Regions from separate parts of the Homo sapiens genome. Here region 1 is linked to region 2. Evidence: fine-mapped expression QTL. A gene starts in region 2. The other region holds a variant in brackets. All regions are shown on one strand. Distances are between the middles of the regions.

Evidence for each region.
Region 1: its variant is fine-mapped to the expression of APPL2 in tibial nerve (GTEx, PIP above 0.99).

The regions. Positions count from the first base shown.
Region 1 is chr12:105,263,500-105,272,152 of GRCh38, reverse strand. No RefSeq gene overlaps it. Among named protein-coding and RNA genes, the nearest start is that of APPL2, 32 kb to the right of the region's middle. The variant G/T (reference allele first, on the strand shown) is at 4,809.
Region 2 is chr12:105,230,846-105,239,498 of GRCh38, reverse strand. APPL2 (adaptor protein, phosphotyrosine interacting with PH domain and leucine zipper 2) reads left to right here and starts at 3,325. Exons shown (of 21, transcript NM_018171.5): 1 at 3,325-3,540. The coding sequence starts at 3,487. RefSeq lists an enhancer at 2,942-3,442 and silencers at 3,307-3,446, 3,497-3,746.

The DNA of each region.
Region 1 (8,653 bases), 33 kb before region 2:
TTTCATTGTGCTTTGTTTGTGTGTTTTGTCCAATTCTTCGTTCCAAACACCAAGAACCTGGACAACTCATAGTCAAGACCCTCCACCAGTAAAAGGGAACAACTGCACTCCCCCCAGGCAACAGATTGAGATCCTGTCTGATTAAAAAAAAAAAAAAAGTATTTTTCTACTCCAATGTGCTGTGTCTATTGGTCTATACTTACCTCCCTTTTTCTCTTAGACTTCCCATTGTTCCTGTTTTACTCCTCTGACCCACTACTAATGGCTAATTAAAATGTTTTTCCCAGTCTAGAAATGGATTTCCTGTCTAAGTCTACAGAAAGACATGCGTGCAGAAAAGCACAAGCGTTTTAGCCGTGAACCTCTTTTCAAATGAAATCTTACCTGGAATTCTAAGATACAAAATTGTAGTTTTTCAGGTTGAAGTTGGTGCAGAGGACCTGAGGAGCACAATCCAACTCCAGCTGTGGCAACTCTGTTTGTTATCTGACAAACTCTCAGATGTATAATATAGGATGGTGACTCTTGACAAAGCACAGAATAGAATTTTGACAAGCCTAATGATTTTTGAAAACTCTTTGTCAAATCTTGTCATATACTATGAGGATCCATCAAAATGACAATCTGCACACCCTGCCAACATGACTAATTCCTTAAAACAATGAGAAAACTCATTACTTTGAAAGAAAGAAGAAAATGTAGAAAGAGATGTTTAGCATCCTCTCTCTTTTAACAATTATGTGGCTTATAAAACAGACAATAGATATACAGCCAACATTGCGATTTAATTAGGGCAATAGTTTCAAAATGACTCTATCAGAAACTAGAGAAGGGAATATCTTTGGAGAGCCTGAGCCTGTGTTTCAAACCACTGCAGCAGCAGAGCAACTAAGAAAAGAATAATAAACGGTTGTGATATTTAAGGGTGGACACTTTTAAGCAGTAAATAAACAAAAATTATCGTTATCACCATCATCATCATCAAATCTGACACTTTGAGCACGAAGCCTGTGTTGGACACTGTGCTAAATATGCTGTGTGCACCCCCTCATTTCATCCTGACAGCCCTCTGAGGGTGATACTGATATTATCTCTGAGAGATTAAGTGGCTTGCTCAGAGTCACATAGCTGATAAGTGGCAAAGCTGGGGCCAGACCTCAAGTCCATCTGTCTCCCAAGTTCTTTAATACAACTGAAGCTTGTAAGTATTGGAATGTGAGGAGCCCAAAATCCCAAGCACAGATCCATAGCCAGGGGTTCCAGTACTCACTGGAATTTGGTCTCCCCCTCCCTACTTCACTCACCGAAAAAGGATGACTACAGATGTGAACTTTCACAAGTCTGGGATTCATGACACCTTATGTGGAACTGATTAGTTCAAAGACCTCAAGCAGAGAGTCTCTCCTTTATTTTCTCAGTAGGTCTGTGAGTTAAGGAGAGGAAGGTTTTATTATTGCTGACATCCATCCTAAAGAAGAAAAAACAGGCACAGAAGATGGTGAAACTTTTCAGGGTCATACAGGGAATCCTTATGACAGCAAGTCTTTCTGTAATAAACTATTGGCTTGCATGCTAGAAGGGACTTGTGGCCCCAGAAGCAAAGCCTAGACCCTGGCCTTCCTCCTTCTCACCTTCCTACTAAAGTCAGGGGCCTGAATGGGACCTTAAAAACAGGATCAAAATAGCTAATATTTATTAAGTTTTACTCTGTGCTTTATGTACATTACATCATTCATACCTCTCTGAAACCTTCTGCAGTAGGTACTATGTCCTCCAGGTAAGAAGAAAGGAAAATAGAGATTCAGCGTGGTTAGGAAGCTTGCTCAGGATGACACAGCTAGCTGGAAACAGAGCTGGAATTTGAATTTGGCCAGCCTTGCTTCTAATTTATACTCTTAACCTGGCACAAATCAGCCATGTCCAATGTACAAAAGGGTTATGTTTTAATTTGTTTGCTTAGAATTGGAACATGTTTTCTCTTATAAACAATTTTTAAATGGTAGGGCTCCCAGATCAGCCCACAGAGGCCTATTTATGCCTTGATGTTGTTCAAATTCACCTATTTGCAGAAAAAAATAGCAGGAACAAGATGTTTCAATTGATGATAATGAAAGTAAATATGAAAGCAAATACAATGAATAAGGAACATTTTAAAAATCTTAAATATCTATGTTGGGAAACTCCAAAATCACTAGAAGAGGTAAATGAAAATTTTGGGAAAGCTTCTGAAAATTTTTCCCAACCAATTTCAAGTACTTTAGAGGTGATTACTGCTGGCCATTTGTTATGAATTTCCTCTTTTCCGATCCAGATGCAACAGCATTAGTCATACACTCATCAAAAATATAAAGGCTGTTGTCTTTCAGTTTTGCACCCAAAAAGAGAGGTGCGTGATATAAAGAAAATGCATGAACTTTGAAACCCAGCAGACAGGGATTAAAAATCAAAATTCTGACAGATAGAGAAGCAATCAGAAAATCTCAGTCCCACTTTAGCAGGGCTTAAGTGAGTCTGTAAGTGGAAAGCTATAAGTTTGGGTTGTCTGGTCATTCCTCTGAACAGAATAGGGTATAAGACCTTGGGTATCACACGTACAGACAGTTCGAAGAATTGGGGTGACTAAGTAAAAAGGCTAAAATTAAGAAAGATTAAAATGTATCATGAGAAACAAAACATTGAAATGAGTTAGGAGAAATTGCATGTACAAAAATCAACTCTGGTTCCAGGCTTGAAAGAAATCATTCTACGAACAAAGTAGGTATACTAATGAATGCCCAGAGGAGACCCACTGAACTGGTAGCTTTTCAAGATATCCCTCGCTGCAGTCAGGCCATAGGAGTGTAGGATAAGAAGAGACTGTAAAAAGTGAACCAGTACATTTCTTGGTTCTGGCTCAAACTGCCCTTACATCAAACCAGAAACCAAACCTTGGTCCTTTACTTAAAAATACCCAGATGATATTGCAAAACCTTTCTCAAGAACAACTGTTAGAAAGTGACATTCTTTTGAAAACTCAATAACCATCAACTTTTGTTAAATATTTTGCCTTCTTTTAGTTTATACTCTTGCCAATTGGACCTTTAGTAATGTTGACTGGAAGATTGATTGACTTTAAAATCCAAATCAAATTCTGAATCCTAACATTTTACATCCAACCAAATGCAGCTATTATCCATCCTTTTTTAATACCAAAAAGTTTTTTTAATACAAGATTTTTCTCAGTATGTCAATAATATCTCAGTAAAAAAAGAAAGACCTGTAAAATTTCAGTATCTTTTGTATGAAAGGTCACTTTTTTAAAAAAGGTGTTATTTTTCCATTTGAAAAATAAGCACACTGGTCAATCAACAGTTTATATCTGGTCCTTTTAGAGATTTTGCAAAACAATGAAGATTTTCTTTTTTTGACAACATTTTTCTTTCCATAAAACAATTATTGTTCAGGGGCAGATTTCATTGTTTTAGCAGTGGAGTAAGCCACAGCCCCAAACTGAGAGGAGAACGTGGAGGTCCTTGAGGCATCTTGAGATAAACAGTTCCCTTGGAAAGCTACAGCACCTTCTGTTTCCTCATCTCCACTGCTAGGAGAGGAGAGTCACTCTCCCACTAGTGAAAAAGCCAGACTTGGGTCTTGTTTATAGGACCAAATCATAGCCTAAGTAAGAGCAGGGAGAGCCAGGAAGCCATCTGACAGCTACAGAAGTTTTCTCTTGTATTACTTTCTTGAAAGTTTCTTAAAGCCCAGGGAATGCCAATCTAGATCCTGTTTACATTTTATATGCTCAATAACGGGGTGATGATCTGATATAAAAATCAGTCTTTTACAGTGTGGTCGGTAATATGTAGCCCTCTCGGGTCTAAGTGAGCCTTGCTAAAGCTACATTCAATGAGCGCAGTCTCTTATCTCACTACTCCAAGAAATATGTGTGTGTGTCTTTATGTGTACACACAAACACAGAAACACACACAGACTCACACGCATATATATAAATTGAAACTATGTGCCAGGGTTACTTGACACACATTTTTTAGTTGATGTTCACAGCCACCTCATAAGCTGGTGTTAATTCTTAAGCTTTAATACCGAGTCTTAAGAAAGGTTACAAATTTGCTGAAGATCTTATAGCTGGTAATGGTGGGGCTGGGATAGGAACCAGATGAACCTGGATGATTGCAGTGGTTAATGTAGCAGCTGTTACCAGTGTCCTGCTTACAGTCTTCACCGACGCTCCAGCTGATGACACAGCTCCCAGTGTGGGCCTCTAGGGCCTGGAGGCTCTTTTTGGAACCATGGAAAGCTATTCTAACTGACATATGCTTGTGCAGAGAAGCACCAGGAAATGACCACAGCCTGTCTGCACTCCAATAGCCCTCCAAATGTATCTCCCCTAGCCACTTGCTACTCAGGAAGAATTATTCTGAGATGTGTTTTTTACGCCATTTTTTAGAACATCCCTGTGAAATTACATTTCAATTGCCTACAGCAGTAGTTGGTTTAATAATGGAGCCTTGGCCAGGCACAGTGGCTCACACCTGTAATCCCAACACTTTGGGAGGCCGAGGCGGGTGGATCACCTGAGGTCAGGAGTTCAAGACCAGCCTGACCAACATGGTGAAACCCCATCTCTACTAAAAAATACAAAAATTAGACGGGCATGGTGGCAGGCGCCTGTAATCCCAGCTATTCTGGAGGCTGAGGCAGGAGAATCACTTGAACCTGGGAGGCAGAGGTTGCAGTGAGCCGAGATCGCGCCAATGCACTCCAGCCTGGGGTGACAGAGCAAGACTCTGTCTCAAAAATAATAATAA[G/T]AAGAATAAGAATAAGAATAAGAATAAAATAATGGAGGCTTTACTAGCTTCCTTTCCTGTGTCACTTCCCCGTTTCCTACCAGTATTCCCTGCACTTCCCAAATAAACGACTTATACTCAAATTATTGTCTCAGGGTCTGGTTTGGGAAGAACCCAAACTGAGACAGTCACACAACCCAGTTCAGATATATAGATCCATAACTATGGCTTTCCAAAGATTTCCTTTTGGGGTTTTACAAAGGCCACAAAATGAGGAGTGCAATTGAACACAATAGAAGGGAGAACTATATACATTTTATTATTCAGTTAATACAGTTCTATCACAAACCACCACTTGTTGGGGTCTGACTATCATTTTCCTATTCCCTCCTCACAGAGGAAGTGCAACCCTAAGAAAAGAACCCTAAGGAAAGGATGGTCAAGATAAGTCTTTTTCTTCTGGTCTTTGGGCTGGAATCATTTGTTCTGCGGATGTTCTGTGTCTACCACTCTGACATGCTGGGATGGGACTTCCTGCATGGGACTACTTATTCCAGATCTCTGCTCCATGGACTTTTTCAAGCTTTAATTTAAAGGGTTTTTAAAACAGAATTTATTTTTTAGAGTAGCTTTAGCTTCACAGCAAAATTGAATAGAAAGTACAAAGAGCTCCCATATAGTCTCTGCCCCCCACAACACAGCCTCCCACACTATCAACACCCGCACACTGGAGTGGCTACATTTATTACAATGGATGAGCCTACATTGTCATCTCATTATTGCCCAAAGTCCATAGTTGACACTCTTGGTGTACATTCTATGAGTATTGGCAAATGTATAACGACATGTATCTACCATTATAGTATCATACAGGACAGTTTGGATTCCCTAAAATTTCTGTGCGTTCTGCCTCTTTATTCCTCCCTCCTCGCAACCCTTGGCAACCACTGGTACTTTCACTCTCTTCATAGTTCTGCCATTTCCAGAATGTCACATAGGTGGACTCATACAGTATATAGCCTTTTTCAGATGGGCGTTTTCACTTTATAATATTCTTTGAAGTTTCCTCCAAGTCTACTCATGGCTGGATAGTTCATTTCCTTCAAGCGTTGAATTATAGTTCATTGTCTAAATGTACCCTGGTTTATTTATCCATTCGCCTACTGAAAGACACCTCAGTTGCTTCCAAGTTTTGTCAATTATTATTAAAGCTGCTATTAACATCCACGTGCAGGTTTTTGTGTGGATATAAGTTTTTAATTCATTTGGGTCAATACTAAGGAGCACAATTGCTGCATCATATGGTAAGAGTATACATAGTTTTGTAAGAAACAGCCAAATTGTCTTCCAAAGTGGCTGTACCATTTTGCATTCCCACCAGCAATGGATGAGAGTTCCTGTTGTTCTACATCCTTTCCAGCATTTTGTGTTGTCCGCATTTTGCATTTTGGCCATTCTGATAGGTGTGTAGTGGTATCTTATTGTTGTTCATATTTCGGCACCATTTTTTACATCACTTACATTGCTGAGGAAGGCTAGCCCTACAAAGTGTCAACGATGTACTACTTATCCCAGAGGGGGTGGCTTCTCTCTCTATTTGCTTGAGGACACAGCTCTTGCAGCTCCCCTGTGGAGGGGAAGGGATCCAATTCTATTACTTTTGGGAAACAGTGTCACTTGCTGGTGGGACTCATGAAAGGTCCCTCTCTGGGGGCTGGTTCTGTAACACTTCCAGGTAATGTCACTGACTACTTCCTGGGACCACAGAAGTTACTGTTCAGGGCTTTCTTACCCATTTCATTTTTAGTCCCTTTCTTGCTAAGCATGCCATGAAGGCCAGTGGTTTTCAATCTCATTTGTCTTGATCATTTGACAAATAATCAAGTTTTCTAACGATTTACACTTTGTTCTTAAGTTTAAAAAGATGCAAGATTATCTTTATAACTTTATATTTCACCTGTTTTCCAAAACGCTTTCTTTAGTATGAGGGAAAGGGATGGAGTAAAGCCAAATGGGAGGAACCTAGAAATTTCCATAGCACATGGGAGTGTCATGGGGAGAATTCTGAGAACCTCTGGGGCAGGCTTTTGTCTTACTGGGCAGTGCTCAGCATTTGGAAAAGCTGATGATGAGGTGGGGGCAAGAGGTGGATGTGAATGCAGAGGCTTAAAGTTTTACCAAGCAATGACCTAATAGCAATAATTTTTTTTTTTTTGAGACAGAGTCTCACTCTATCCCCCAGGCTGAAGTGCAGTGGTGCGATCATGGCTCACTGAAGTTTCTATCTCCTGGTCTCAAGTCATCCTCCCACCTCAGCCTCCTGAGTAGCTGCAACTACAAGCGCACACCACCACACCCAGCTAATTTTTTGTATTTTGTGTAGAGACATGGTTTCATCATGTTGCCCAGGCTGATCTCCAACTCCTGGGCTCAAGTGATCCTCCCACCTCCGTCTCCCAAAGTGCTGGAATTACAGGCATGAGCCACCGTGCCCACCTGCTAGCCACTATTCTAAGAGCTTTGTATGTATGATTGTATTTAGTACTCAAAACAGTAGCAGGTACTTTTACTATCACCTCCATTTTGCAGAGAGTTTAAAGAACTTACCTGTAGCTCCAGTGGTGCAATCAGTTAGTATATGGTACTCTTAAGAACTTACCAGACAGCACAGAGATACGGACTGAATCTAGCCAGGCTGATCCAGGTTCTGTGTTCCTCAATGTGCCACATCACCTTGATGCTGAGACTCATCTGAGACTTTCTTAGTGGCATTTCCTCACCCCACGCCGCCTCCTCTGTTAATAGCATGATATTATTAGGTTGGCACAAAAGTAATTGAGACTTTTGCCATAAAAGTAATGTATCCATTCACCTACTGAAAGACATCTTGGTTTCTTCCAACTTTTGTTAATTATTATTAAAGCTGCTATTAACATCCATGTGCAGGTTTTTGTGTGGACATAAGTTTTTAATTCATTTGGGTCAATACCAAGGAGCACAATTGCTGGATCATATGGTAAAAGTACGTGTATTTCTGTAAGAAACAGCCAAACTGTCTTCCAAAGTGGCTGTATCATTTTGCATTCCCACCAGCAATGAATGAGAGCTCCTGTTGCTCTACATCCTTGCCAGCATTTGGTGGTGTCAGCAAACCTGCTCTCCCCTCCATTCTATTAGATTGGTACAATTACTTTTGCAATTACTTTTTGCAATTACTTTTGCACCAACCTAATAGAATGGAGAGGAGGGCAAGTTTCCCAATGACTGTCCTCACTCACCCGTGTATTTATTCATTCATTTAACTGACAACTTCTGATCAAGCTCCAATTGTGTGCTGGGTACTCTGCTTAACCTTGAGAATACAGCAAGGAATGGGACAAAGTTCCTTCTACTCTCATAAGAAGTATATCTTTCATGTTGGAAACCAACAATAAACATATACATAAATATGGAAACTGTGATGGTGACAAGTGGCGGGAAGAGAAGAAACATACACAATAGAGAGTGTCTGGGAACTACTTTAGATTCAGTGGGCTGAGACCTGAGTCACAAGAAAGGCTTCATGAGAAGATCTAGGTTAAGAAAGCCCCAAACAGAAGGAAAGGGAGCCTACTGCGTGTGTTTGGAAACACAATAGGGTGGCATTGTTGGAGTGAAATAAGGGGGCCCGGGGCCCCACCAGGTACAGCCCTACAGGCCATGGAGAGGACCTTGGATTCTACAGCATGTGTAATGGGAACATGGGAGGGTTTGAGCAGGGGAGTTAGATGATCCACATACACCTCATTTTTTAAGGTTTTCGTTCCTTACAGGTGCAGTGGCTCACGCTTCTCATCCTAGCACTTTGGGAGGCCAAGGCAGGAGGA
Region 2 (8,653 bases):
TCTGTGAGCCAGTGATTGGCATCTCTTCAACCTCATCTCCTCCCACTCTTTCCCGCCTCGCTGTCCTTAGCCACATTGGCCTTTCTGCTCCTCCTCAAAGAGGAGCAAGCCTCAGGGCCCTCACACTTGTTCTTTCCTTCGGGCTGGGCTTCCCTGATTCAATTCTCAGCTCAACAGTTGCACACCTCAAAGAATCCTTTCCACTTCCCATGATCCTCTATTCCTTTACTAAAGGTTATCATACACTTATCAACTTGTATTTGTTTCTTATTATTTCCTCCATTAGAATATAAACTCCATTAGGGCAAGGACTACTTTTTGCTTCAGCCTATATCCTCAGCTTCTAGAGAAGAGTCTAACACACAGTCGGTGCTACCTAGTGAATGATTAACGGCAAAAGCAGCATTGTGCTATCAAATGAAATGAGATTCATGAAAACATTTTTTAAACTCTGGAGTATCAATCATGTATAAGTTATAATAACACATTATAGTTTAGTAAGTATTTATCAAGCAACTGCTTTTGTGCTAGGTAATGTACTAGGCACTCTAATTACAGAAATAAATAAGACCAAGTTCCTACCCATTCTAGCTGGAAGGTTGGAGGTGGAAACAAAGAGAGGTAAGTGTTATTCTAGAATTATCTCGGCAAGTGCTACTGAAGCACACTCAAGGAAAGGAAAATGTATTCTGCTTGGGGGGACAGGAGTAAATGAAGACTTCATCAAAAAAGTCACATTAAACTGGGATTTGATGATTGTGGTTGGGTTTGTCAGACAAGAGGCAGGAGAAAGGGCTTGACTGGCAGAGGAAAGAATCTCAATGCGTGTGCCCTATCATGCAGTTTGCTAAGCATCTCCCAAAACAGCTGCCTTCTTCACTCCTGCCTTTCTCTCTTACTCCTGAAGCCCCAGGCCTTCTCTGACCTGGCCATCCTGGGTCCTTTTTTTGTGTCTCACTGTGTCCTTTTCCCCACTGGCCTTCAATGGGTCACAGGTTACACCTCCATATAATTCATCCTCTCTCTCTTCAGACATCACGACAACTCCAGACTGTCCATCTTTATACTTCCTGTCACCAACTTCACAGCTGACCAGGGATTTCAGAGACAGTGGGGTGGATTTCTAAAATCCACCTGCATAATAGTTTAATAGGAACAGATATATACTCTTTAATGAAACATTTTTAAATGTTCATGTTGACATAAAAATTCCTCTTATGTAGTTTCTCACAGATTATCAAAGGAGAGGATATTTGCCTTCAGAATTTAAATGAGAATCAAACAAGTGGGAGACAGTGCTTAACACTGAGCAGTCTATATTTAATACATGAATGAATGATTGGATGAATTAACAAATGAGATAAATTAAAACCATTTATGCATGTGTTGTATTTCCAGATCTACTTTTGTAACTTAGTTGTTTTGAATTTGGGATAGATTTTCCCATAGAAACAATGTTGTAAACAGTTCTTAAGTTCCAAGAAATCCCACTAAGGCTGTTTAGCCCATAATGTAGCAAGAAAATGCAGAAAAGTAATGGGATAGCTTAAACAATTTTTGAATGTTGAATACTAGTATTTGAAGAAAAGTAACTTTAATTAGAAGATGAGGTGGTACATGAAAAATGCTGTGATTCCCAAGGGGCTGTCTGAGCCCTTTCAAGGGTTCTGAGGGCACTAACTTCTTGTAATGCATATTTTCAAATTAAAATGTGCACATTTATTTCCCTGGGTATAATACTATCCTTGTACTGTTCTCGCAATCAGGATGAAGGAAGAGCATGAGTCTGGCCGTGAGGAATTAGATTTCAGTGAGAAGAGAGTCTGGGACACTGGATGAGGTAAAATGAACTGAATGGCAGGCGGTATAAAATAGAGGAAAGGGAAGAAATATGGTGTGAGCATGATTCCACCTATAGGGAAGACAAGAGTATGGTGGAGGCAAGAAAGAATAGGGAAGAAAGAATACTGTGGAGGAAAATATGGTAGATGGAGGCCATAAAATGGTTCAGGTCAGGTTGGCGCTGGCCAGACCAAGGGAATAATGGCCTTGGAGTTTTCAAGTGATCAGGCAGCATGCTACTATACTAGACTGTCAGAGGTGTCAGCAATGCAGATTGGGTCTTGATATACCTAAGAGGTCTCTGCAGAATGCAGAATTTATATATTACCATATCCCCTCTGTTGATTTTGGTGACACACATACTGCATGATTTTTTTTTTTTTTTTTGAGACGGAGTCTTGCTCTGTTGCCCAGGCTGGAGTGCAGTGGTGCCCTCTCGGCTCACTGAAACCTCTGCCTCCCGGGTTCAAGTGATTCTTCTGCCTCAGCCTCCCGAGTAGCTGGGATTACAGGCGCATGCCACCACGCCCGGCTAATTTTTGTATTTTTAGTAGAGACGGGGTTTCAGCATCTTGGCCAGACTGGTCTTGAACTCCTGACCTCGTGATCCACCCATCTCGGCCTCCCAAAGTGCTGGGATTACAGGCGTGAACCACCACGCCCGGCCAGTCTTATTAACTTCTAAAGAAGGAACTTCAGAAACCCTTGCCTTCCGTGTAAAAAGGTGTCACGTTCCACTTGCCAGTCTTCTTCCATCCCTCTCCCTTCCTTCTTTTCTTCCTCTGGCGTTTACTAACTGACCCTGGGCAGACCACTTATTTCTCTGGGTCCCATTTTCTCATCTCTAAATGACAACACTGGAACCTAGATTATCTAGCCCTTCCAATTCTAAACATTTGATTATGAAATTCTCCAAAATCACAAAACATAAACCAGGAGGACGAGACCTAATTATGACCACATCAAATAGCTGTGGTTTCCAAAGTGGTTATTTCTGATTATCACAGACGAGTCAGTTATCCAGCTTTTCTCCTCTTTTCTTTGTTCCCATAGCATAGGCGACCTCTTTGCTCTCAGAGCTGTTTCAGGGGCGTCGAAATTTATCTAGAAAAAGTGGTGTGGGAAGTGTGGGTTTTTCCTTCCATTAAAAGAAAAAATCTGTTCGCTCCTTCAACTCAAAAGGCTTTCTGGGTAGCCATAAGCAGATAAAACCTTATCTTTCTACCCTCGAGTTCCTCTTTTGGACTTCATATGCATTGACTTGACGGACCTTCAGCACAGAGAACAAACACCCGAAGGGTTCCCTCAGCAACGGGACTGGCACCCAGAGCCCCCCGCTCCCCGCGAGCCGGCGAGCGCAGGCGGAAGCGCGGGCGCCACATTTCCGGTGTCGGGACCGGAGCTCACCACACTTCCGGTTTCCCTGCCGGGCGCGCCACACTTCCTGTTGATCCGGCTCGGCCGGGGGCTGGGCCGGCGGGCAGGCGGCGGCGGCCACTGGCCAGGCGTGGACGCGCGCGGGGCCGCCGCGGGCACGGAGTGGCCGCCGCGTCGCCTGAGCCCAGAGCCGGGGAGTGCTCTCGGCCGCCGCGTCTCCTGCCCTCTGTCCTTCCAACCCAGCCCTCGGCTGAGCCGCGCCGCACCATGCCCGCCGTGGACAAGCTCCTGCTAGAGGAGGCGTTGCAGGACAGCCCCCAGGTACCTCCCGCCGCTCCGGTGCCCCTCGCCCGCAGGGGTGAGGCCGAGGAGGCCCCTCCAGCCCCGGAGTGGAGGCCGCGCCCCCGGCCGGGCAGCCGCGGGAGTGCGCCCGGCCCCCTCGCGGCGCCTCCCACCGGGTTCTCTCGGGCTGAGGAGGGGGCGGGCCGGGCCCTGAGTCCTGAGCCGGGGCAGAGCTGTGGAACAGGGGAGAGAGCCCCGCGGCCGGAGTCTTGATGTCGTGACCCCCCTGCAAGCTCAGCTGCAACTGAGTCTGCGAGATCTAAACTTTGATTCCATGTAGTAGCTGAGTGCCTCAGGAAAACCACCTTATTGTGCCTTAGTTTTGTCGTCTGTAAAATAGGAATAATAATTGTGCCTGCTTCATAGGGTTGTTAGGAGAAGTCAATGAGAAATACCTGTAAAGTTGTCAGCAGACAATGTCCGGTACAGATAATGAGTCAGTCTTATTACTGCTACTCCTAATGATGTGATGAGACTTGTGCCAGCCAGAATGAGAGGCAGAGGGCCTGGATCTCTTTTCCGGCGGTACCAGGCCTCCTTTTGGCACCGTTTTCCCATTAGTGAAGAGAAAAATACAGTACCTGCCCCATTTGTCGCACAAGGGAACTTCATTAGCACACTCGAGATGAGAGTCAAGTCCTTTGAGCTCTGCAGATGAAAACTGGTGTGTAAATATAGCAAATGAGTGCAGGATGACATTAGTTCATAATTCAGCACATCTTTCCCCAGGGGTCTTTTGTTCTCCTTTGTTTAACATTTCTCCAGCTTCGTACCTACACTCCTGGTTCAGCATCCCGGGTTTATTTAAATAAGTGCCTTTATTTCCTAGTGTCTCAACTCTTGAAAACTTAGAATAAGATTAACCTATTTTCGTTTCACACTTTCCCCTCTCTTTTGGGGTTCCTTCCCTTTTTCTTCTAAGTGAATAATACTTCCCAGGATGATCCTTGTATGGATTTACCTACATCGACAGTTCAGAATAAGTCCGAAGGGCTGTATGCATAGGTGTCTTTTGTTCATTTTTTGTGATCCTCCTAGTGTAGATAAGTAAGGAACTGGAAGCAAGCTGTGTGTGTGTTTTTTGTTTGTTTGTTTTGTTTTTTGGTAAGTTTGCATCCTCTGGACGACTTTTTCAAGGCCTCCCTTTTTTATATGGCTGTAGACTCCTGGCATTTTAATCAGACTAAAGCCCTTGGTAGAAGGCATTTTGTCCATGTTCATATCTGTTGTGTGGAATCTGAAGATAGCAATGTGAGATTTTAAATGATCACTTTGAACAAGGATCTCTGTTTGCCTTGCACTTATGGAAACTGAGGTGCACAGAAATATCCTGCTTTTCTAACCTACATGGTGATGCCTAAGCCAGGTTACAGTGATTATACTAACTGATTCTTGATGTTGTCCTCACAAACAGATCATATTCTTAATTTCCAGCTCTAACATAAAGGAATATACACTGTTTGTGAGTGGCTTAAAGGATTTGCCCAGCTGTGAGGAAGTAGACAGGACTGTAGAGCAAGTCAGGAGACCTGGGTTCTAATTCTGGCTCTCACGCTCACTTAGGATGTGATGTGGGTGAGTCTCTTCATCTCCACCCTGTAGCTGGCTCAGTTTCCTAATCTACAGAACATCTACAGAATGAGAGACAGGGAGGGAGCAGGTGATCTTCAAGGTGCTTTAGAGTTAACATTGTCATATCTACATGGTGTATAACTTTGAACTTGTATGTGGCAGAGGAGGTTTAGAGATATTATCATTCTTATTTAATATGTTCCTTTTAATATAGGAAGTTTATTTGTCATTGCTTTTGAGACTTGGCCATCACCCTTAAGAGGGCTCTTGATGGTGCTGTTGTGCAGAATGGAAGCTGACTTTAAGAAGGTCTTTAATGATCATCAGAGCATATTTATATACTACTCTCTTGTATGTGACCTGTGCCTAATGTAGCTTTACTCCCAAGGTGACTCCTAGACTTGGAACTGGAAGGAATCTAATCCATCCCCTTCATTTTATGTGCAAAGCATAAAAACAATAGCAAATGCCTGTTTCATGGATTTTATGTGCCAGGGACTCTTCTAAATGCTTTACATATATTAACTCACTCAATCCTCCCAATAGTCTTGAAGTACATTCTCTATTTAAATAACTAAGGAGCAGAGAAGTAATTTGCTTAGAATTATACACCATAAAGTGACAGAGCCAGGACTGGAACCCAGGCAACTTGCCTGTACTAGGGATATGGTTCAAGTTAGCCCAGCTATCTAGCACCGGGCTTTTCTGTCATCAGTGACCTAAAATGTTTCACTAAAAGGAAAAGATCCTAATAAACCATCTATTGTGTGTTTCTTCTAGTTTTATGAAGAGTAATTTTGAGAGTTGCTTCAGTAATGTGATTGCACAGGATGAATTAAATGAACACCAAAGCTTTTGTAATTGAACTGAGTGACCCAGGAAGAGCTGAATAGCAGTTAACTGACCTTAGACACATCTATTCATGGACTCCTTTTTAGTTTGCAGTGCTGCACGATGCATTGTAAAACTAGTCTGTGTGCATACACATGCGTTATTTCTGCTTACCTCTCATATGTGGGAAGCTGAACATTTTAGGGATTAAGAAATCTGCCTCCATTGTTGTTTAGAAGCCTCTGCTCCTTGCCTGGCACTACTGGCTGTTGGGAATGTGAAGATAAATAAGAGTGACTACCCTTGACTGGTTCACAGTTTGTTCCAGAGACAGATAATGAGGCAACAGTTCCAGTACAGTGTGAATCCTGCTGCGATAGGAACACAAATGCAGCTTTGAGCTCCTGCAGCTTGTACTTCTTCAGGGGCTTATTCTCTTGTCCTGTAAGTAGTACACTTTTGAGGTAAGGTGAAGACAACAGCACTGTTGCTTGCTCGGTTTGTGTTTTGTTTGTTTCTTTTGCGATTGGCATAACGGAACAAAGAAATAAAAGATGTAGTTCTGAGGTTATGCAGTTGAGTGGCCCGGCTGGGAGCAGCCCTCTCCAACCAAATCAGGCCTTTCTTTCCTCAAACAAGATAATCTCAAAACATAACCTGGTGGTTTTATATGTCTTCACTGTGGAGATGTTTTGTGCTGTTCCTCTTTTTGTTTATAACCTATTTTTCCTTTCAATAGACTTGGTTCTTTTTTTTTTTTTTTTTTTTTTTGAGACAGGGTCTCGCTTTGTTGCCCAGACTGGGGTGCAGTGGCATGAACACGGCTCACTGCAGCCTCAGCCTCCTGGGCTCAAGCGATCCTCCCACCTCAGCCTTCTGAGTAGCTAGGACTACAGGCATGCATCACCACGCATGGCTAATTTTTTAATTTTTGTAGAGACAGAGTCTTGCTGTGTTGCCCAGGGTGGTCTTGAACTCCTGGGCTCAACCAATCTTCCTGTCTTGGCCTCCCAAAGTCTTGGTTCTTTTCACTAGGACATTCTCTTCCTCCACCAAATTATGGAGATAAGAACTTTGTTTATAACCTTAAAATTTTCTCAGTAGTCAGTGGTGTTAACATTGGGCCACTACACAATTACACACACTATTCTTGAGAATGTCTAGGAGTGTTTTATTAGGTAATACCCAGTTTCTTTAAGGTAAAGGAGTGATAGGGAGCTGAGGCTGTGTGCATAGGGTGCTTGGATTTGTTTCTCTGGCCGAGCATACCCTTAAAAGTGTCGGGCAGTAGAAAATGGATGGAATTCCACTCCTGAATCTGCTACTGTTACTTTTGGCAAGTTACTCAATCTCTCTGAGGTTGTGTTTGGAGGTATGTAAAATAAAAATAAAAATAGCTATTTAGTTGAGTTGTTAGGAAGAACAAGTAACATATGTAAAGTGTCTCCATGCTGGCATGCCATAGTAACCCCATAAATGATTGCTGTTGTTATCTTTGTAAGTGAGATATACCAGTGTCTTTCTGACCGTGTCTTTCTGACCGTGGGATTTTGAGCTACTGGTGTGCCTTTGCTTTATTCTTGGTCTCATTCCTTCTTTATGTCTCAGAATATCTCTGTTGTTCCAAACCAAAGTTTGAGCAGACACAGTATAGTAAATGAGGATAGCCAGTGTCCAAGGTAGCTGGTTATATTTTTTCCAGAGGTGATCACTGCCAAGTTAAATTAAAAAGGGAAGACCAGAGTTTCCCTGTCAGTTCTAATGGGCATCACAGTTGCATTTCCACGATATAAGGAAAAAGGACACTTGTGATGTAGTTCTCTGGCAGGTATTGTGGGCGGGAACATGGTAGTAGCATCCAGCTCCAGTCTGCCCCTGTCCTGCCTCCAGTCAGGGCTGTACGCTGTGGACCAAAGATCATGCTCGCTGATGAGAGCCACCCTGCTGGTGACCTCAGTGCTGCCGACCCATTTACATCCCAGCCCTGCCACATTCCTACAGTGGGAGGTTGAACACATTTCTTAACCTTGATGAGCCTCAGTTTCATCATCAGTAAAATGAAGTTAATGGAACCATGGAATCTACCTTGGAGAGTTGCTAGAAGAATTAAATGAAGTCACATATGTTTAGTGCCCAGCACAGCGTCCAGCACATAGGTGGTACAGAGTAAGTGGTAATTTTAGTTTTCTTTCTACCCTCTTTGTGGAGGACATTCATGCAAACCCTCTCTTTCCCTTTTTACCTCTTTTCTTCCAGTCTGTTTTTATCCCTTAGAGTATTAAATGCAATAAACAGGATTTGGCTAAATGGACATAGTAGTATTTTTGAAAAAACTAGCCACAATCCAGTTATATCACTTCTCATTCTCCTGAATCAGTGTGTTTAACCTACTGGTTGACATCCATTAGTAGATTATGAAATCCAGTGGGTCACAACCACAATTTTTGTTTATAAATGGAATAGACTAAAATAGGAAAAAGCCACAATGTGTATGCATATTATCGATAAATATTGTTTGGGAAAACCTTTGTTCAGGTCCTGATGTATTTCATACTGTGATTATGAATTTTTGAAAGTTCAGAGAGCTCTTCTAACACAAATTATACACTGTACAAATTCTGTGTTGTTTTTCTTTCACTGAGAGCTTTTTTAAACATGATGTTACAATTTCCTTATTCATTATTGCACA